2 separate regions of the Homo sapiens genome follow, and region 1 is linked to region 2. The links come from fine-mapping of genetic effects on gene expression. A gene starts in region 2. The other region holds a variant in brackets. All regions are shown on one strand. Distances are from middle to middle.

What was found. PIP is the estimated chance that this variant, and not a neighbour inherited with it, causes the effect.
Region 1: its variant is fine-mapped to the expression of OGDH in testis (GTEx, PIP above 0.99).

The regions. Positions count from the first base shown.
Region 1 is chr7:44,673,800-44,683,530 of GRCh38, forward strand. OGDH (oxoglutarate dehydrogenase) reads left to right here. Exons shown (of 23, transcript NM_002541.4): 6 at 1-142; 7 at 612-758; 8 at 1,379-1,469; 9 at 2,171-2,350; 10 at 7,921-8,049. Among named protein-coding and RNA genes, the nearest start is that of ZMIZ2, 70 kb to the right of the region's middle. RefSeq lists a silencer at 4,347-4,560. The variant C/T (reference allele first, on the strand shown) is at 4,125.
Region 2 is chr7:44,600,928-44,610,658 of GRCh38, forward strand. OGDH (oxoglutarate dehydrogenase) reads left to right here and starts at 5,700. Exons shown (of 23, transcript NM_002541.4): 1 at 5,700-5,726. RefSeq lists enhancers at 5,260-5,859, 6,111-6,674, 6,350-6,689 and a silencer at 5,900-6,129.

The sequences.
Region 1 (9,731 bases), 73 kb after region 2:
AGCATATTGGGGTGGAGTTCATGTTCATCAATGACCTGGAGCAGTGCCAGTGGATCCGGCAGAAGTTTGAGACCCCTGGGATCATGCAGTTCACAAATGAGGAGAAACGGACCCTGCTGGCCAGGCTTGTGCGGTCCACCAGGTATGGGTCTGGCCCTGGGCCATGGGGCAGACATTCCCAGGGAAGCAGTGACCCTGTCTGTGTTGATCGGGCCTGTGTGCAGCCTGTTGGCCGAGGTGAGAGGGGGTTTGGGGTGGTACAGGCAAAGCTCCATCTGCACATGTGTGAAGAGACACCAGACAAGTAGAGTCAGCCTTCAGAGCAACCTCCGCCTCCTGAATTCAAGTGATTCTCTTGCCTCAGCCTCCTGAGTAGCAGGGATTACAGAGGCACACCACCACGGCTGGCTAATTTTTATATTTTTAGTAGAGATGAGGTTTCACCGTGTTGGCCAGGCTGGTCTCGAACTCCTGACCTCAGCTGATCTGCCCACCTCGGCCTCCCAAGGTGCTGGGATTACAGGTGTGAGCCTCCATGCCTGGCCAGAATCCCCTCTTTTTGGTCAGGAAGAGTGACATTGCCCTTCAAGGTGGCTTGGTTCCCTGTCCAGGTTTGAGGAGTTCCTACAGCGGAAGTGGTCCTCTGAGAAGCGCTTTGGTCTAGAAGGCTGCGAGGTACTGATCCCTGCCCTCAAGACCATCATTGACAAGTCTAGTGAGAATGGCGTGGACTACGTGATCATGGGCATGCCACACAGGTACAGCCAAGGGCGCGCCCAACCTGGTTTCTCACCATCCCTGTGGGCTGTGTAGGAGGCACCAGGTAAAGGCACTGAGAGAGCAGCTGTTTCCTCCTTGAGTGCCAGTTGTGAGTCTGGGCTCATCTGGTACCTGAGGGTGTATTGCTTTGCAGGGGATTCTCACATTGCCTGCCTCTGGAGGACTGCAAAGTCATGGTCACCTCCAAAGCCACATGTAGTTTCAGACTGGCATTTGGCCTTACAGTGCATCTTTATGAAAATTAAACCCAAGTTCCCTTGTTGGGGTCTAACCTGGAGGGAAGGCTGCTTCCTGACATTGAAGGGGAGGCCAAGACTGTGAAAATAGGGAAGGTGTGGGGAGGGAGAAGGGTAAGGAAGCCTCAGGCCCATGGCATTGCTGCATCTTCTATCTTTCTGCTGCCCACTGTGGCCTTGATTGCCCAGCACGGAGAGGCTCGGTTCCCACATTAGCTCCAGTTTACAGCTATCCTTGGGCTGCAAACCGAGGAGGTGCCGTGTCCTGGGGGGAGGGGGAGGGGGGGATTGTAACACCCTCATCTGCCATCTGGAAACCATGACCTCAGGCTCTGCTCACCCTACTCGCCCATACGTTCCAGAGGGCGGCTGAACGTGCTTGCAAATGTCATCAGGAAGGAGCTGGAACAGATCTTCTGTCAATTCGATTCAAAGCTGGAGGCAGCTGATGAGGTGAGGCACCTGCATAGAGACACATCCAGCATAGCCCCAACTTACACAAGACCCCTGGCTCCACTTCTTTCTTAGAATGACTTACGGGGGGTTGGTTCTTCTGTACCATTTGTGATTTGCCTTCCTTGTTGGGAGAATTTTAGTGTTGGGACAAAGGTGGCCAGTGGCCCACCTCCTGGTCAGAGGTCCAGCAGCCCCACTCTGAGTGCAGGGGTGTGTCCCCTCTGGCTGAGGGACGTTCTCCTTATGCCCTGGATGGGAATGATCCTGGGAAAAGGCCTCCATATCCTTCTGCGTTGGGTTCCTGGGAGTAGAAATCCCATATAAGGCTGGGCATGGTGGCTCACATCCGTAACCCCAACACTTTGGGAGGCTGAGGCAGGCGGATCACGTGAGGTCGAGAGTTTGAGACCAGCCTGACCAACATGGAGAAACCCCATCTCTACTAAAAATACAAAATTAGCCGGGCGTGGTGGCGCATGCCTGTAATCCCAGCTACTCGGGAGGCTGAGGCAGGAGAATCGCTTGAACCCAGAAAGTGGAGGTTGCAGTGAGCCGAGATCGCGCCATTGCACTCCAACCTGGGCAACAAGAGCGAAACTCCATCTCAAAAAAAAAAAAAAAATTCCCGTATAAAAGGGCTCTTTTGGAGACTGAGCATCTCCTTGGCCAGGGTGCAAATTCACTGTTTACCCCATCAGGGCTCCGGAGATGTGAAGTACCACCTGGGCATGTATCACCGCAGGATCAATCGTGTCACCGACAGGAACATTACCTTGTCCTTGGTGGCCAACCCTTCCCACCTTGAGGCCGCTGACCCCGTGGTGATGGGCAAGACCAAAGCCGAACAGTTTTACTGTGGCGACACTGAAGGGAAAAAGGTAAGGCCCAGAGAGAGGCGTGCAAGGCAGATCGTCAAGGCCCCATGTTCCAGCATGGAGTTCCGCTCACCAACATAACCCAGAGCCCTGGGTGCATCTAGACTTTAAAAAAATATTTAAAGTCGGCCGGGCGCAGTGTCTCACGCCTGTAATCCCAGCACTTTGGGAGGCCGAGGTGGGCAGATCACCTGAGTTCGGGAGTTGGAGACCAGCCTGACCAACATGGAGAAACTCCATCTCTACTAAAAATACAAAATTAGCTGGGCGTGGTGGCGCGCGCCTGTAATCCCAGCTACTCAGGAGGCTGAGGCAGGAGAATCGCTTGAACCCGGGAGGTGGAGGTTGCAGTGAGCCGAGATTACGCCATTGCACTCCAGCCTGGGCCAACAAGAGCGAAACTCTGTCTCAAAGAAAAAAATAAATAAATAAAAAATATATGTATATGTATGTATGTGTGTGTGTGTGTATATATATATATATATATATATATATTTAAAATCAACTTTTAAAGAATAGCAATAGTAAAACAGTCCTGCTTACAGTGTTCCTTTTCCTGAAGTTGTAATTGTCAGAACTATGTGGGAAGTTTGCTTTTGTCTTCACCAAATCTGTTAAGGAGCCAGGTTGCAGTTATTCTGAATGGACAGAGATGTTTTCACTGAAAAGGAGGGGAGTCTGAGAGTCTCTGTAAGGAAAAAGTGTAGGTGAGCCTGAAGGAGAAATTGTAGAACTGAGACTTGTCAGGAGAGTCATGCTTGCTGTGATTAGAGGCGGGAGTTCACGGGCTGGTAGGAGACGGAGGAGGGCACAGACTGCAGGCAGGTGGGGTCCTGCTTCACCATTTCTGGTCATGTGACTGAGTGTTGGGGGTTGACTCGCCTGCCTGCTTGTGTAGAAATAGTCTCAACAGATTGTAACAATTTGCCCTTATTTAACTTCAAGATAGAATCTTGTCTGACAAATTTTATATTTCCTATTAATGATGACCTAAAAACCAAATAATCAGAAAAAAAATCAAATATTTGTAATGTCTTATGTATGGGTTCTGGGAAACATATAAAGAAGGCATCACCACTTTTCTCTCCAGAGCCTCCTGTTCTTTTTAGAAAAAAGGTCGTGTGTAAAGAAGCAAATAGCACATACACGGCATGATAGGAAACTGGAGTTAGCCGTGAAGAGCTTTGGAAGAGGTGTGCAGGGGTGTGGGCTAGAGTTGGACCAAGGATAGAAGGCACACCCCTTAGTAGCAGAGCAGGTAGTTGTCATTTTATTTGAGAAGTGGCAGGATTTAGGGAGGTGGGAAGGGAAGAATGTTTTCTGGAGATGAAAGGTAAGAGCAAAGATGTAGGGGGAATTGGGGACACAGAGCAGGGAGGGGCCGGCCTCCTAGTTGTGCCCTGGAAAGAAGTCAGGTCTATGTTAGAAGTGGAACCAATTGGCCAGGTGCGGTGGCTCACGCCTGTAATCCCAGCACTTTGGGAGGCTGAGGCGGGTGGATCACCTGAGGTCAGGAGTTCGAGACCATCCTGGCTAACACAGTGAAACCCCATCTCTACTAAAAATACAAAAAAAAAATTAGCCGGGCATGGTGGCACACGCCTGTAGTCTCAGCTACTCAGGAGGCTGAGGCAGGAGAATTGCTTGAACCTGGGAGGCGGAGGTTGCAGTGAGCTGAGATCACGCCACTGCACTCCAGCCTGGGTGACAGAGGGAGACTCCTTCTCAAAGGAAAAAAAAAAAAAAAAGAAGTGGAACCAATTATTACTTTACCAGG[C/T]TCTATAATTTTAAATACTGTAAATCTACTACTGTCATGCTTACAGTGTTAGAGGAAGGGAAACTGTCATCATAGGTAATGGAGCCTGGGCTGGGGAAGTGATTCCCGCATCGATCAATGCTCACTGTAAAGAACGAGTATGACCCACAGGGACGCAGAGGTCATTCCATGGCTTCAAGCTCATGGGCCAGGACAGTGCCACAGAAACTTCAACTAGATGCAAAGAGGCCTTAGCTCTGGGGAACCTGCAGCCCCCGCAGGCAGTAACAACACTGGGTGTCTGGGATGGCCTGGGCTAAGGTGAGATCGGCATGGGGAGATCAGCATTGTGATGACCAGTGCCTCTGGTATTTGCACCCTCCTTGGCTAGGACACTCGCCCAGGCATTTGGGCTGAGTAGTGGAATGAGATTACCGAAAACTTTGGGTGATTCCCACATTCATAGATTGTGGACAGAAATCCACTCTAGCAGTACTCACCTCATAATGCTGGAAATTTCCCAAAAAGGAATGAAATCATTAGAGTAAAAGCAATAGAGTATATTTTAAACTGCTACAGATGGTCACACTGATTGGTCCCTTCATGAGATGCCAGGACAGGAGAGGCTGGTTAGTCCCTGATTTGCTCATAAGTCTGCATGCAGCTGAGTCCGAACTGTCAGTCCCTTTGTTTTCCAGTCTACACAAACCTTGTTGTCACAAGTTTGCCCTTGCCCCAATGTGGATAGCTGCCAGGCCCTCTTTCTGAGCCTCCTCGTCACCTTGCCTCAAGCCCTCACATGTCCCCAGCAGGGTCAGTGTGGGGTCATTGCAGGCTCAGCCATCTGCCTGTTCTTCTTACTCCTCTTGACACCCATAGGACATGATTTGATTTCTATTAAATCCAGAAACTCAGGGAGCTGGAGTGTGTGTTATGTAACTCTCAGCATTTTTCGTGAAGAATTACATACTTTCTGTAAGTGCAGCTGAGGTCATCCCATAACCTCATGCATGATTGTGAAACAGACCTGATTTGGCTCAGTGCTAATATGGCCTTTGGGATCTTTGTTCATGAAAGCATTTCCTCAGTGCAGCAATGCAACCTGCTGCAAAGGGAGAACCCGCTCCTGCCAGAGGTATGGCTCAGGCTGCCAGACACAAGGAGATTCCCCATGTGTCCTGGCTGTGATTTCAGCAGACAGTTACCACAGTGCAGTATGGCATGGTAGTCGCAGTACAACATCACCAGGATGATCAAGAGCAAATACCATGACAAGAGGAAGACTGACTACAGGTGCCCTGTCAGCAGAAGACAGACTGGACAGAAAAGTATCTGCGGGAAGAAACAACACACTATCGGGATCAGGAAAGCATGAAATGTCAGTGACTCAAAACCAATGGCTTTTACACTCAGGCAGCCTGGGCATCGTAGCAAAGCTGCACACCTCCAAGGGGGCCCCGTAAGCAAACCAGATCCTTACGTCCACATGCTGCTATCCTAGTGAGCACCTGCCACATCCACCAAAAGGCAGGACACCTGCAGTTCTGTTTTTAAAAATTCTAGGTTTTGTCCCTGACACACAAATCATGGGTCTTAACCAAGGATGACTCAGCACAGCGCTGAGGACCAGGGTAATCACAAGAACTCAGGGAGGTGCAGGTCAGTAGGCCCGTAGGCTGAGGACACAGCAGGAGAGGGTGTGTTGTATATCACCTTGGCTAGCCACAGCGTCCAGGTTTTTTTTGCTAAACACCCATCTAGATGGCATTTTGTAAAGATAAGATTAACGTTTAAACCAGTAGATTTTGAGTAAAGTAGAAGACCTTGCACAATGTGAGTGGGTTTCATCCAGTCAGTTCAAGGCCTTCGAGAAAAAACTGAGGTTCCCAGAAAAGAAGGAATTCTGCCTCCAGACAGCCTTCACACTTAAGCTGCAACATCAGCTCTGCTGTGGGTCTCCAGCCTGCCAGCCCGCCCTGCAGACTTTGCACTTGCCAGCCTGATTCCTTAAAAACCCATCTTTCTCGGCCAGGCACGATGACTCATGCCTGTAATCCCAGCACTTTGGGAGGCTGAGGCAAGAGGAGTGCTTGAACCCAGGAGTTTGAGACCAGCATGACCAACATGGTGAAACCTCGTGTCTACAAAAAAATGCCAAAATTAGCCAGGCATGGTGGCATGTACTTGTATTCCCTGCTACTTGTGTGACTGAGGTGGGAAAATCACTTGAGCTTGGGAGGCAGAGGTTGCAGTGAGCTGAGATCGTGCCACTGCACTCCAGCCTGGGTGAAAGAGTGAGACCCTGCCTCAAAAAAAAAGAAAAAGAAGAAAAGAAAGAAAGAAAATCATTCTCTCTCTCCCTCTTCCTCTTCACCCTCTCAGTTCTGTCTCTCTGGAGAGCTCTGACTAATACAAGGGTTTTAAAGAGGTATAGGCTGTGTATCCAAGGAGTAGAGGTGGTGGGCTTACATGATTGTGGCATTGGGGACACTGAGCAAATGAGTAAACATATCAAAGGCAGTGAGGATGGAGTGTCTTGCAGTTGTAGGAGATATTTATAGGTGTGGAAGGAGGTGGCCTAGAAAGTGTTGGATTAAAATTTGGAGGTATCAATACAAACTCATAGTTTTATTGCATACACACACACACACACACACACACACACACACACAGAAATAGCCATGTATATGTGCGCCTGCATATGCACACATGTATTTTTTAGATGTATGCGGAATGGGCCTAGAAATGATGATATCCTGGCAGTGATGAGCACACAAATACTGGTCTTAAATCCCATCCTCTACTGGAGGAAGCTGGCTTCTTAGAGAAACAGCTGATATTGTCCAGGGCTGGACAGGGACAGTACAACATGGAAGCTACAATGTTCTGTTGGTCAGGAAGCAAGGAGGTGCTCATGAATGAAAGAGACCTGTCCCTGTTCACAGGAAAGGGAGGCAGCTGGACAGAGCTGCTCTCCCTATCAACCTGGAACAGTGTGAGCATTAAAATAACTAACAATATTAATGCAACCTGTCGAATAAAATAGGAACCATGAGTACATACTAACACGAGTAAATAAACAAGGGAGAAGGGAAAGCTCTTCCTTGCAGAGAATGCCAACTAATAAATTTAGGAGTAATCGAAACTGGTGTTTGCCATCCATCAACCACCCAAGGGGCTGGTTCAGACGCAGTTGTCAATACTGCTGAGGCTGGGGTGGAGGTTTGAGGAGGAACAGGATGTAAAGTTTCTTCTCACAAAATACTACCACTATACTCATTGCCAAGGAAAACAATGGTGAGTGAAAGGGAGGATAGCAGACAGCAGCCTCCCAGGTGAGCAGAGTTAACCTGACCTGATGCAGTATGTCCTTCCCAAGTGGGGACCCAAGGTCTGTCAAGGGTGCAAAGACAAGAAGGATGAGGAGCTGCTCCTGGTTGGAGGAGCCAAAGAGACCTGGCAAGTGATGCTGCCCTCCCATGTGGGGTCTGGGGCCAATGGCTAAGCTAGTGCTGCCCTCCCGGAACAGAGGGTCCGGGTAGTCATGTTGGAGAGTGTCCTAGCAATGCATCAGGTCTACAGCTCTTTCAGTGCTGAGAACAGATGATGATGGCAGGGTGTGTTGGTGTTGAGCAGATATACCAAGGTGCTAGCATGTTGGGGATTTGGGGCCCTGTGGACTTTCCTGCTACTTTCTATGTTTGAAATTATCTCAAAACGTTATTTTTTGAAAAACAAATGATGCATTTCCTCTGTTTACCTTGTGGACTTGGCAATCAGAACATTCTGGATTTGGGGTCTCCTTTGGTGTTTACAGGTCATGTCCATCCTGTTGCATGGGGATGCTGCATTTGCTGGCCAGGGCATTGTGTACGAGACCTTCCACCTCAGCGACCTGCCATCCTACACAACTCATGGCACCGTGCACGTGGTCGTCAACAACCAGGTACCTCACACCAGCCTGCGGCTTTGCTGCTCACATCAGTCTTACTTAGAATGACATCTCTGAGTCATTTAGGACGTTCACTGTTTTCTGATTATAAAAATACATCTGTTATTAAAAACCAGGTGCAGTGGCTCACGCCTGTAATCGTAGCACTTTGGGAAGCCAAGGCAGGAGGATTGCTTCAGCCCATGAGTTTGAGACCAGTCTGGGCAATATAGTGAGACCCCCTTTCTCTGCAAAAAAATTGAAAAATTAGCACTGGGTGGCCGGGTGCAGTGGCTCAGTCCTGTAATCCCAGCACTTTGGGAGGCCGAGGCAGGTGGATCACCTGAGGTCAGGAGTTCAAGCCTGGCCAATGTGGTGAAACCCCGTCTCTGCTAAAAATACAAAATTAGCCATGGGATCACATGCCTGTGATCCCAGCTGCTTGGAAGGCTGAGGCAGGAGAATTGCTTGAACCCGAGAGGTGAAGGTTACAGTGAGCCAAGATTGCGCCATTGCATTCCAGCCTGGACAACAAGAGCGAAACTCCATTTCAAAAAAAAAAAAGAAAAGAAAAAAAGTTAGCACCGGGCATGGTGGCCCACAAATGTAATCCCAGCACTTTGGGAGGCCAAGGTGGGCAGATCACTTGAGGCCAGGAGTTCGAGACCAGCCTGGCCAACATGGAGAAACCTCATCTCTACTAAAAATACAAAGCTACCTGCTTGGTGGCGCGCACTTGTAATCCCAGCTGCTTGGGAGGCTGAGGCACAAGAATCACTTGAAACCCTTGAGGCGGAGGTTACCGTGAGCCAAGATCACACCACTAAGCCTGGGCGACAGAGCAGGAGTCTGTCTAAAAAAAAAATTAAAAAAATTAGGCATGGTGGTGCATGCCTGTGGTCCTAGCTACTTGGGGGTTTGAGATAGGAGGATCACTTGAACCTGGGAGGTCGAGGCTGCAGTGAGCCATGATTATGCCACTGCACTCTAGTCTGGGCAACAGAGTGAGACCCTGTCTTGAAAAAAATAAATAGGCTGGGCGTGGTGGCTCACACCTGTAATCCCAGCACTTTGGGCGGCCGAGGCAGACGGATCATGAGGTCAAGAGATCGAGACCATCCTGGCTACCACAGTGAAACCCCGTCTCTACTAAAAATACAAAAAAATTAGGCGGGTGTGGTGGCGGGCACCTATAGTCCCAGCTACTTGGGAGGCTGAGGCAGGAGAATGGCGTGAACCCGGGAGGTGGAGCTCACAGTGAGCTGAGATCACGCCACTGCACTCCAGCCTGGATGACAGAGCAAGACTCTGTCTCAAAATAAATAAGTAAATAAATAAATAAAAAAGAAAAAAATAGATTTTAATACATTATTTTTAAGATGGCATTATTGTTTTAGATTTTTGTTTGTTTGTTTGAGACCAGTCTTGCCCCATAGCTCACGCTGGAGTGTAGGGGCATGATGATAGCTCATTGCAGCCTTGAACTCATGGACTCAAGCATCTTCCTGCCTCAGCCTCCCGAGTAGCAAGGACTATAGACGTGCACCACCACTCCTGACTAATTTTTTTTTATTTTGTGTAGAGGCGGGATGTCACTCTGTTACCGAGGCTGCTCTTGAACTCCTGGCTTCAAGTGATCCTCCCATCTTGGTCTCCCAAAGCACTGGGATTGTAGGTGTGATCCACCATGCCCGACA
Region 2 (9,731 bases):
TAACCTTAGATTTGGCAATGGATTCTTAGATATGACATAAGCAACATCAAAATTAAAAACTTTCAACCTTTTGTGAGTGGTGGCTAGCACTAAGAGAAGCCAGGAAGGCCTGGGGCACACATCAAGAACACAAGGTGGTGGGGGTGTTGCCTGACCACCCCCAAAAGCTGCACACCAACCCTCTACCCCATGCGAATCTTTGAGCCTCTGGCACTTTGTATCTCAGCTGAAGAAGCCTTCAGTGGAAACTGTCTCCAGTGGGCAGGTGTTGGAGAACCCGCCCTCTTCAGGTGAAGAGTTTGGGCATCTGGCTGCACTATCCTCCAAGTGGCACCCAAAACCTGCACTGGGAACATGGGCCCTGACCTGGTGGACATCACCACCTGGTGACAGAGTGCCAGGCGCATTCCATCCAGATGAGGAAGATGAAGGAGACTGCGTCAGAAAGTGCTGCCAGTCAGCAATCAATTCCACCACTTCACTATCAAGTTCTTTCTGCCCCACCAGTCCTGCCATGCCAGCATGAGCCACACTTTGTTAACAAGAAACCCAATACCTTCTCTAGGTACAGAGTCCTCTCCACCCCCAAGACAGCCCAGATAAACTCCTTAGGAACAACAACAACAAAATTAAAAACTTTTGTTCATCAAAGGACATTGTCAAGAGATAAAGAGAGGCCTGGCACATTTGAGAGGCTGAGGTGGGAGGATCTCTTGAGGCCAGGAGTGCAAGACCAGCCAGGGCAACAAAGCAAGACCCTGTCTCTACAAAAAATAACAATATTGGCCAGGTGCGGTGGCTCACGCCTGTAATCCCAACACTTTGGGAGGCCGAGGAGGGCGGATCACGAGGTGAAGAGATCGAGACCATCCTGGCCAACATGGTGAAACACCGTCTCTACTAAAAATACAAAAATTAGCTGGGTGTGGTGGCACATGCCTGTAGTCCCAGCTACTCAGGAGGCTGAGGCAGGAGAATCGCTTTAACCCAGGAGGCAGAGGTTGCAGTGAGCCAAGATCGCACCACTGCACTCCAGCCTGGTGACAGAACGAGACTCTGTCTCAAAAAAACATAAATATATAAAATAACAATATTAGCTGGGCGTGGTGGTGTGCACCTGTGGTATGGTTCCAGCTACTCAGGAGGCTGAGGCAAGAGGATCACTTGAGCCTAGGAGATCAAGCCTGCGGTGAGCCATGATCACACACCACTGCACTCCAGCCTAGGGAACAGAGTAAGACCCTGTCTCAAAACAAGCAAACAAACAAAAAAAAAGAAATGAAAACCTACAAAATGGGAGAAAATATCTGCAAATCATATATCTGATTAGATTTAATATCCAGAATATATAAAGAACTCCTATAACAACAAGAAAACCCAATTTAAAAATGGGCAAATGACTCAAATGGACAGCTCTCTGAAGAAAATATACAAATGGACAAGCACCACATGAAAATATGCTCAACATCATTAGCCACTAGGGAAATGCAAATCAAAACCACAATGAGCCGTGGTGGCCCACACTTGCAGTCCCAGCCCAGGAGTTCAAGGCTGCAGTGATCTCTGATTGTGCTCATGCACTCCAGACTAGGTGGCAGAGTGAGACTCTACCTCTAAAAAATAATAATACTTTCTAAACCACAATGAGATACCACCTCATACCTATTTATTATAGTTGGCTGTAATAAATTTTTTTTAGAGATGGGGTCTTGCTATGTTGCCCAGCTGATCTTGAACTCCTAGCCTCAAGCAATCCTCCTGACTCAGCCTCCCAAAGTGGTGGGATTACAGGCATAAGCCACTACACCTCACCAAATTTTTTTGGTTGGGGAGTGGGGAGGTGGGGGAACAGGGTCTTGCTCTGTGCCCAGGCTAGAGTTCTGTGGCATGATCATAGCTCACTGCAACCTCAAGCTCCTGGGCTCAAGCAATCCTACTGTCCCAGCGTTCCAAATAGGTAGGACTACAGGCATGTGTCACCACTCCTAATTTTTTTTTTTTGGAGAGACAAAGTCTCACTATGTTGCTCAGGCTGATAATCCTCCTACTTTGGCCTCTGAAAGTGCTGGGATTACAGGAGTGAGGCATCATGACTGACCGATAGTAATTTTTTTAAAAATAGAGACAGTAAAAAAAAAAAATAGAGACAGACCTGTAATCTCAACACTATGGGAGGCTGAGGCAGCAGGATCGCTTGAGGCCAGGACTTCGAGACCAGCCTGGGCAACACAGCAAGATCCTGTCTCTACAAAAAACAGAAAAAATTAGCCTAGCCTGGTTGTGCATGCCCATTGTCCCAGCTACTCAGGAGCGTGAGCTGAGAGGATCACTTGAGCCCCGGAGGTTGAGGCTGCAGTGAGCTGTGATCACACTACTGCACTCCAACCTGACACCTTGTCTCAAAAACAAACAAACAAAAAAGGTGCGGTCACTGTGGGAATTTATCACTTCCTGAAAAAGCTAGACAGAATTCCCATATAACTCAGAAATTACACTCCCAGGTATACAGGCAAAAGAATTATAAACAGGTGTAACCACAGGACCAGTTGAATCTGATTCAGTTTTTTTTTTTTTTTTTTTTTTTGAGATGGAGTTTTGTTCTTCTTGCCCAGGTTGGAGTGCAAAGGAGCGGTTTTGGCTCACTGCAACCTCCGGCTCCCGAGTTCAAACGATTCTCCTGCCTCAGCCTCCCAAGTAGCTGGGATTACAGGCACCCACCACCAGCCTGGCTAATTTTTTTGTATTTTTAGTAGAGATGGGGGTTTCGCCCTGCTGGCCAGGCTGGTCTTGAACTCCTGACCTCGGGTGATCCACCCACCTCAGTCTCCCACAGTGCTGGGATTACAGGTGTGAGCCATTGTGCCCAGCCTGGTTCAACTTTTATCAGTAACAAAATGATGAGTTGTTTTTCAGTTACAATAGATCCCCAGGCTGCAAGTCACGTAACCTAAGTATGCCCAGATGAACAAAGTGTGCCTGATAGCTGACCCTGGTGTCGGTGGGAACACAAAAGTCAACCACAGGCAGGACTTAACCACTCAAATGGAGGAATGGACACCAAATTAGGAAGCATGGGGCGCCTTGTTTTGCTGCAATATGAACTTAAAAGCCAAAGATCCAGCATTGCCCCTTTGCATGACCCAAACAGATCACACCTTGTTGTATTTTCCCATCTCCCTCATAGTTGCCTTCTGCCTATAAAACCTGCCCCCAGATTCCATCTTGGGGAGACAAATTTGAGTATTGCCTCTGGTTTCCCTGCTGGTCGACCTTACGATAAAGCCTTTTCTCAAAAGGTGATGACATAGTATTGGCTTCTATGTGCATCTAGCAGTGAGCCCACTGCTTGGTACCACAATGGGCTCAAACATTTATAAGCCAATGTTCATTGCAACATTATTCAAAACAGCAAAAAAGCAGAAATAACCAAGTGTCCATCAATAGATGAATAAATAAACAAAATGTGGTATATACATACAATGGAATATTATTCAGCCATAAAAAGAAATGAAGTTCTGGCCAGGCATGGGGGCTCATGCCTGTAATCCCAGCACTTTGGGAGGTCGAGGTGGGTGGATCACTTGAGGTCAAGAGTTCAAGACCAGCCTGGCCAACATGGTGAAACCCCATCGCTACTAAAAATACAAAATAAGCTGGGCGTAGTGGCGGGCGCTTATAATCCCAGCTACTTGAGAGGCTGAGGCAGGAGAATTGCTTGAATCTACAAGGCAGAGGTTGCAGTGAGCCGAGATGACACCACTGCACTCCAGCCTGGGCAACAAGAACGAAACACCATCTCAAAAATAAAAAAAGAAAGAAAGAAAAAGAAAAAAATATTAGCCAGGCATGGTGGAGCGTGCCAGTAGTCCCAGCTACTTGGGAGGCTGAGGCATCAGAATCACTTGAACCTGGGTGGCAGAGATTGCAGTGAGCTGAGATGGCACCACTGCCCTCCAGCCTGAAACCGAGGGAGATCCTGTCTCAAAAAAAAAAAAAAGAAATGAAGTTCTGACCCATGCTACAACACAGATAAACCTTGACAACCTCATGCTCAATGAAATAAGGTGGACACAAAAGGACATATACATTATGATTTCACCCACATAAAGTAATTGAGTAATCAAATGTATAGAGACCGTATAATAGAGGTTACCAAAGGAGAGAAGGACAGGAGGAGAAGGGGAAATAGGAAGTTATTGCTTAATGGTTACAGAGTTGCTGTTTCAGGTGATGAAAAAGTTTTGGAAATTGAGTGGTGACGGTTGCATAATATTGTGAATGTAATTAATGCCACTGAGTTATACACCTAAAAATGGTTAAAATGGCATTAAAAAAAAAAAGACAGTATCTTGCTCTCTGGCCCAGGCTGGAGTGCAGTGGTACAATCATAGCTCACTGCAGCCTCAATCTCTCAGGCTCAAGAGATCCTCCTGCCTCAGCCTCCCAATTAGCTGAGACTACAGGTGAGTGCCACTACACCTGGCTAATTTTCTTGATTTTTTAGTAGAAATGAGATCTTGCTCTGTTCCCCAGGCTGATCTGGAACTCCTGAGCTCAAGCGATCCTCCCGCCTCCACCTCCCGAAGTGCTGGGATTACAAGCGTGAGCCACTGCACCCAGCTGCAAATGTTTAGTACATACATTTTTACCGTAATTTATTTAAAAAAAAAAAAGGAAAAAAGAATACAGAAGTTTGTTCCTTGGTCTCTTCACCTCTTCCAGTCTCTAGATCCTTGTCACATACATTACCCTAACTTTGTTCTATAATAAGCACTTATACGCCCCCTTTTTTTGTTTGTTTTTTGAGACGGATTTTCGCTCTTGTTGCCCAGGCTGGAGTGCAATGGCACGATCTCGGCACACCGCAACCTCCGTCTCCCGGGTTCTAGCGACTCTCCTGCCTCAGCCTCCCGAGTAGCTGGGATCGCCACCACGCCCAGCTAATTTTTGTATTTTTAGTAGAGACGGGGTTTCCCCATGTTGGTCAAGCTGGTCTCGAACTCCTGACCTCAAGTGATCCGCCCGCTTCGGCCTCCCAAAGTACTGGGATTACAGGCGTGAGCCACCGCGCCCGGCCTTTCCCCAAATTTTAATACTTTAAAATAGGGAACATCTTACAATCAACAGGTTGTGACAGGTTAATTAGCCACGTTTTATCTTTGATAGGTAGCTCTAAAGTCAAGAAAACCCAGGCAAGATCCCGGGCAAGATCCCAGCACTGCCAACTGTCATTTGTAGACCGGGGATAGGAACACCTGTCTCACAGATTGTTACACAATAGCGCCGGTGAAGCGCTTGTCACAAAGCCTGACCCAGGACAATCTCAAAAACGGAGATTCTGTTATTCAAATTGTTTATTTTTGTGCGCTAAGTTTCACATCAACCCAACTATCTCTTGATAGGTTCCTACCAGGCGCTAGAGATATCTTACTTTCAGAAATTATTTATGATAGCAGAAGCCGCTGGAAGTCCATAGACAACCTCATCTCTCTAGCGGAGCAAACAGCTGGGCTCCAGCTGGCCCTGGCTTCTGCAACTGCGCAGTCGGCGCTGTGACGCCCGGCGCGGCTCTGTGACGTCACGAATCGGTCCTCTGTAAGAGGGGAGGGCATTCTTCTCCAGGGGAGGGCTACGTGTTGACGCCATACGCCGGGGCGGGGCCGAGAGTTTGGAGCCCCGGAGTGGGGTGTCGGCGCCTCATTCGGGTGGAGCTGAGCCGGAGACAGGTAACCGTGCGCTGTCGCCGCGCCCGTCCCAGTGCCGGGTGTCGCGGCGCTTGGCGGCCCGGGGTTGGAGATCGCGGTAAAGGGGGAGGCCGCCGCGCCCTTGGTGCTGCGGGCGCCGCGGTGACAGGGGAGTGGAGCTGGATGGAGTGGGGCTCACGGAGGGTGGTAGGAGGGACGGGACCTGATGGATGGCCGTGGCAGCCAATGGAGCCGCGGGGCCTGCCCGGCGGGCGGAGATTGGCGGGTACGGGCGGGCTCCGAGGTCGCGCGGGGCGCGGAGCGACGCGCCATTGGCGGTGGGCGAGCGGGGGGCGGGCGCGGCGGCGGATGTGAGGGAGAGGGCGGTGCGTCCGCAGGGGTGACCCCCAAGGTCGCCGCGGGCGTCACGTGGTTAGGCCGCTCTCCGACGGCGTCCTTCCCGACCGGGACGCACTCTCCTTCCCGCCTGTGAGGACCGCGTCGCTTTGTCCGAAAGACAGTGTGGCCTGCTCGAGTTGCGTCGGAGCATCTGGCTTTGGGGTGGCCCTGGGTGGGACTGCCTGTTTGGATTACCGCGCAGACCTTGGCGCCGCCCCCACACCTGCTGCCAGAAGTTGGGTCGAACAGATTGACCGAGATGAAGCTTATTTCTCGTAGAAACATCTTTCAAGCACCATTTTCCCTCGAAAATATATCAGACATTGGATATGAGTTGTAATCTACTGAGATTTAATAGAAAACTTGCCGCGCCCTCGCCCTGACCTGGGTGCGTCCCACCTGCCATCCCCATCCCTTTGCCCAGAACATAGGACTTCGTGTTAGGGTTTCCTTGTGCCTTGTCTTGCAGTCCGTACTTTGAGGCTGATTTCCAGGTACACTGCTCTGAACAGCTGGGTTTAGGATGGGTGGCATGGGATAAAGCCTTTTTTTGTAAGGCAGCACTAGTTGCAACAGTCAAACTGTACTTTGCCGTGTAGACCTAGGAGAGTATGTAACACTATTGTAGTTTTGTAAATTAGCTGAGGACTGGATCTTGGGAAGTTGAATAAAGATCACTGTATGCTCATTTTTTGTTGTTGTTGTCTTGTTTGAGATGGAGTCTCTGTCGCCCAGGCTGGAGTGCTGTGGCGCGATCTCGGCTCACTGCAACCTCTGCCTTCCTGGGTTCAAGTGATTCTCCTGCCTCAGCCTCCCAAGTAGCTGATATTACAGGCACGCGCCATCACGCCCGGCTAATTTTTGTATTTTTAGTAGAGACGGGTTTTCACCACCTTGGCCAGGCTATTCTCGAACTCCTGACCTCAGGTGATCCGCCCGCCTCGGCCCCCAAAGTGCTGGGATTACAGGCGTGAGCCACTGCGCCCGGCCCCTCATTATTTTTTTTAAGCGCACTTTTCACATTTCAGTTACTTTTTCCCTTTAAATAACATCTTTATTGAGATAAAATTCACATACCATACGATTCACCCATTTGACGTGCACAATTTCGGCCAGTCGTGGTGGCTCACGTTTGTAATCCCCACACTTTGGGAGTGTGAAAGGAAGATCCCTTGAGCTCAGTTCAAGGAGACCAGCCTGAGCAACCAAAGTGATACCCGGCGTCTACAAAAAATAAAATTATCCGGATATGGTGGCATATACCACATATACTTGTAGTCGCAACTACTCAGGAGGCTGAGGCGGGAGGATGGCATGAGCCAGGGAGGTCCAAGCTGCAGTGAGCCATTATTGCCCCACTGCACTCTAGCCTGGGTGACACAGTGAGATCCTGTCTCAAAAAAAAAGGCCGGGCGCAGTGGCTCACGCCTGTAATCCTAGCACTTTGGGAGGCCGAGGTGGGTGGATCCCCTGAGGTTGGGAGTTTGAGACCAGCCTGGCCAACATGGTGAAACCCTGTCTCTACTAAAAATACAAAAGTTAGCAGGGCATGGTGGCGTGGGCCTGTAGTCTCAGCTACAGGCTGAGCTCCTCCAGCCTCAGCAGGAGGCTGAGGCAGGAGAATCGCTTGAACGCAGGAGGCAGAGGTTGCAGCGAGTCGAGATGGCGCCACGGCACTACAGCCTGAGCGACAGAGCAAGACTCCATCTCAAAAAAAAAAGGAAAGAAAAAACTACAGTATCATCTACTTTTTAGATTTTTAGGTAATTTTTGAGATCATTGTACAAATTATTGAGAAATTCATTTTGAAAACAGTAAAATTTTAAGAAATTGTACATAAAAATTTATTCTATGCAGTCATAATAAATAGTACAGAGAGATCCTGTGTTCCTTTCCCACTTCTCTAACATTGTGCAAAACTATAGTAAATATCACAGCCAGATATTGACATTAATAAAATTCAAGATACAGAATATTCCCGTCATCACAAGGATCCCTTCCATTGCTTTTTTATAGCCACACCCACATTCCTCCCATTCCCAGTCCTTCAACTCCTGGTAACCACTAATCTGTTCTTCATTTCCCTAATTTTGGCATGTCAAGAATGCCAAATAAAAGGATTCATAGAGCCTTTTGGGATTGGTTTTTTCCAGTCAGCTTAATTCCCTGGAGAATCATCCAGGTTGTTGCGTGTTATGGGTAGTTCATTCCTTGGCCAGGCGCAGTGGCTTACGCCTGTAATCCTAGCAACTTTGGGAGGCTGAGGCAGGCAGATCGCTTGAGCCCCAGGAGTTCGAGTCTGAGGAACATAGTGAGACCTCGTCTCTACAAAAAAAAAAAAAAAAAAAAATTAGCCAGGCGCAGTGGTGTGTTCCTGTAATCCCAGCTACTCAGGAAGCTGAGGTGGGAGGATCGCTTGAGCCTAGGCTGTGGTGGCTGCGGTGAGCCGAGATCGCGCCACTGCACTCCAGCATGAGTGACAGAGTGAGACCCTGTCTCAAAAAAAAAAAAAAAAAGGTACTTCATTCCTTTTTATTGAAGCCGGGCTATTGGGCTATGGATGTACCACATTTGGTTTATTCATCCATTAAAAGACATCTTTACTGTTTCCATTCTTTGGCTATTACAAATAAAGCTGCTACAAACCTTCATGTACAGATTTTTATTTGAACATAAATTGACATTTCTCCAAGATAAATGCCCAGGAATACAATCACTAAGTCGTAGTGCGTGCTTAGTTATTAAACAAATAGCCAAACTGTTTTCCAGAGTGATTGTACTATTTTACATTCCCACCGGCACTGTATGGTCTTGTTTCTCCACATACTTGCCAGCATTTGGTGATGTTACTTTTTTTATTATAGCCATTCCAATAAATGTGTAGTAATGTCTCTTTGTGGTTGTAATTTGCATTTTTCTGATGGCTAATGATGTTGAACATCTTTTCATGTGCTTATTTGCCATCTGTCTATTCTCTCTTTTTTTGGAAGAGATGGGATCTTGCTATGTTGCCCAGGCTGGTCTTGAACTCCTGGGATCAAGTGATCCTCCTGTCTTAGCCTCCCAAAGGCTAGGATTTCAGGCATGAGCCACCATGCCTGGCCCCTGTATACTCTCGGGTGAAATGTCTGTTCATATCTTTTGTTCATTTCGTAATTAGATTGTTCGGTTTTTGTTAACTGTTGAGCTTTGAGAATTCCTAATGTATTCTAGATACCACTGCTTTGTTGGATATGTAGTTTGCAGATATTTTCTCCTAGTCAGCAGCATGTCTTTTCATCTTGGTTTTTTTTTTGTTTGTTTGTTTGTTTTGTTTTTGAGATGGAGTCTCGTTCTGTCCCCCAGGCTGGAGTGCAGTGGCGTAATCTCTACAACCTCTGCCTCCCAGGTTCAAGCGATTCTTCCGCCTCAGCCTCCTGAGTAGCTGGGATTACAGGCGCTTGCCACCACACCTGGCTAATTTTTGTATTTTTAGTAGAGACGGGGTTTCACCGTGTTGGTCAGGCTGGTCTCGAACTCCTGACCTCGCGATCTGTCCACCTCAGCCTCCCAGAGTGCTGGGATTACAGGCGTGAGCCACTGCTCCTAGCCCTTTTCATCTTTTTGTTTGTTTGTTTGTTTGAGACGGAGTCTTGCTCTGTTGCCCAG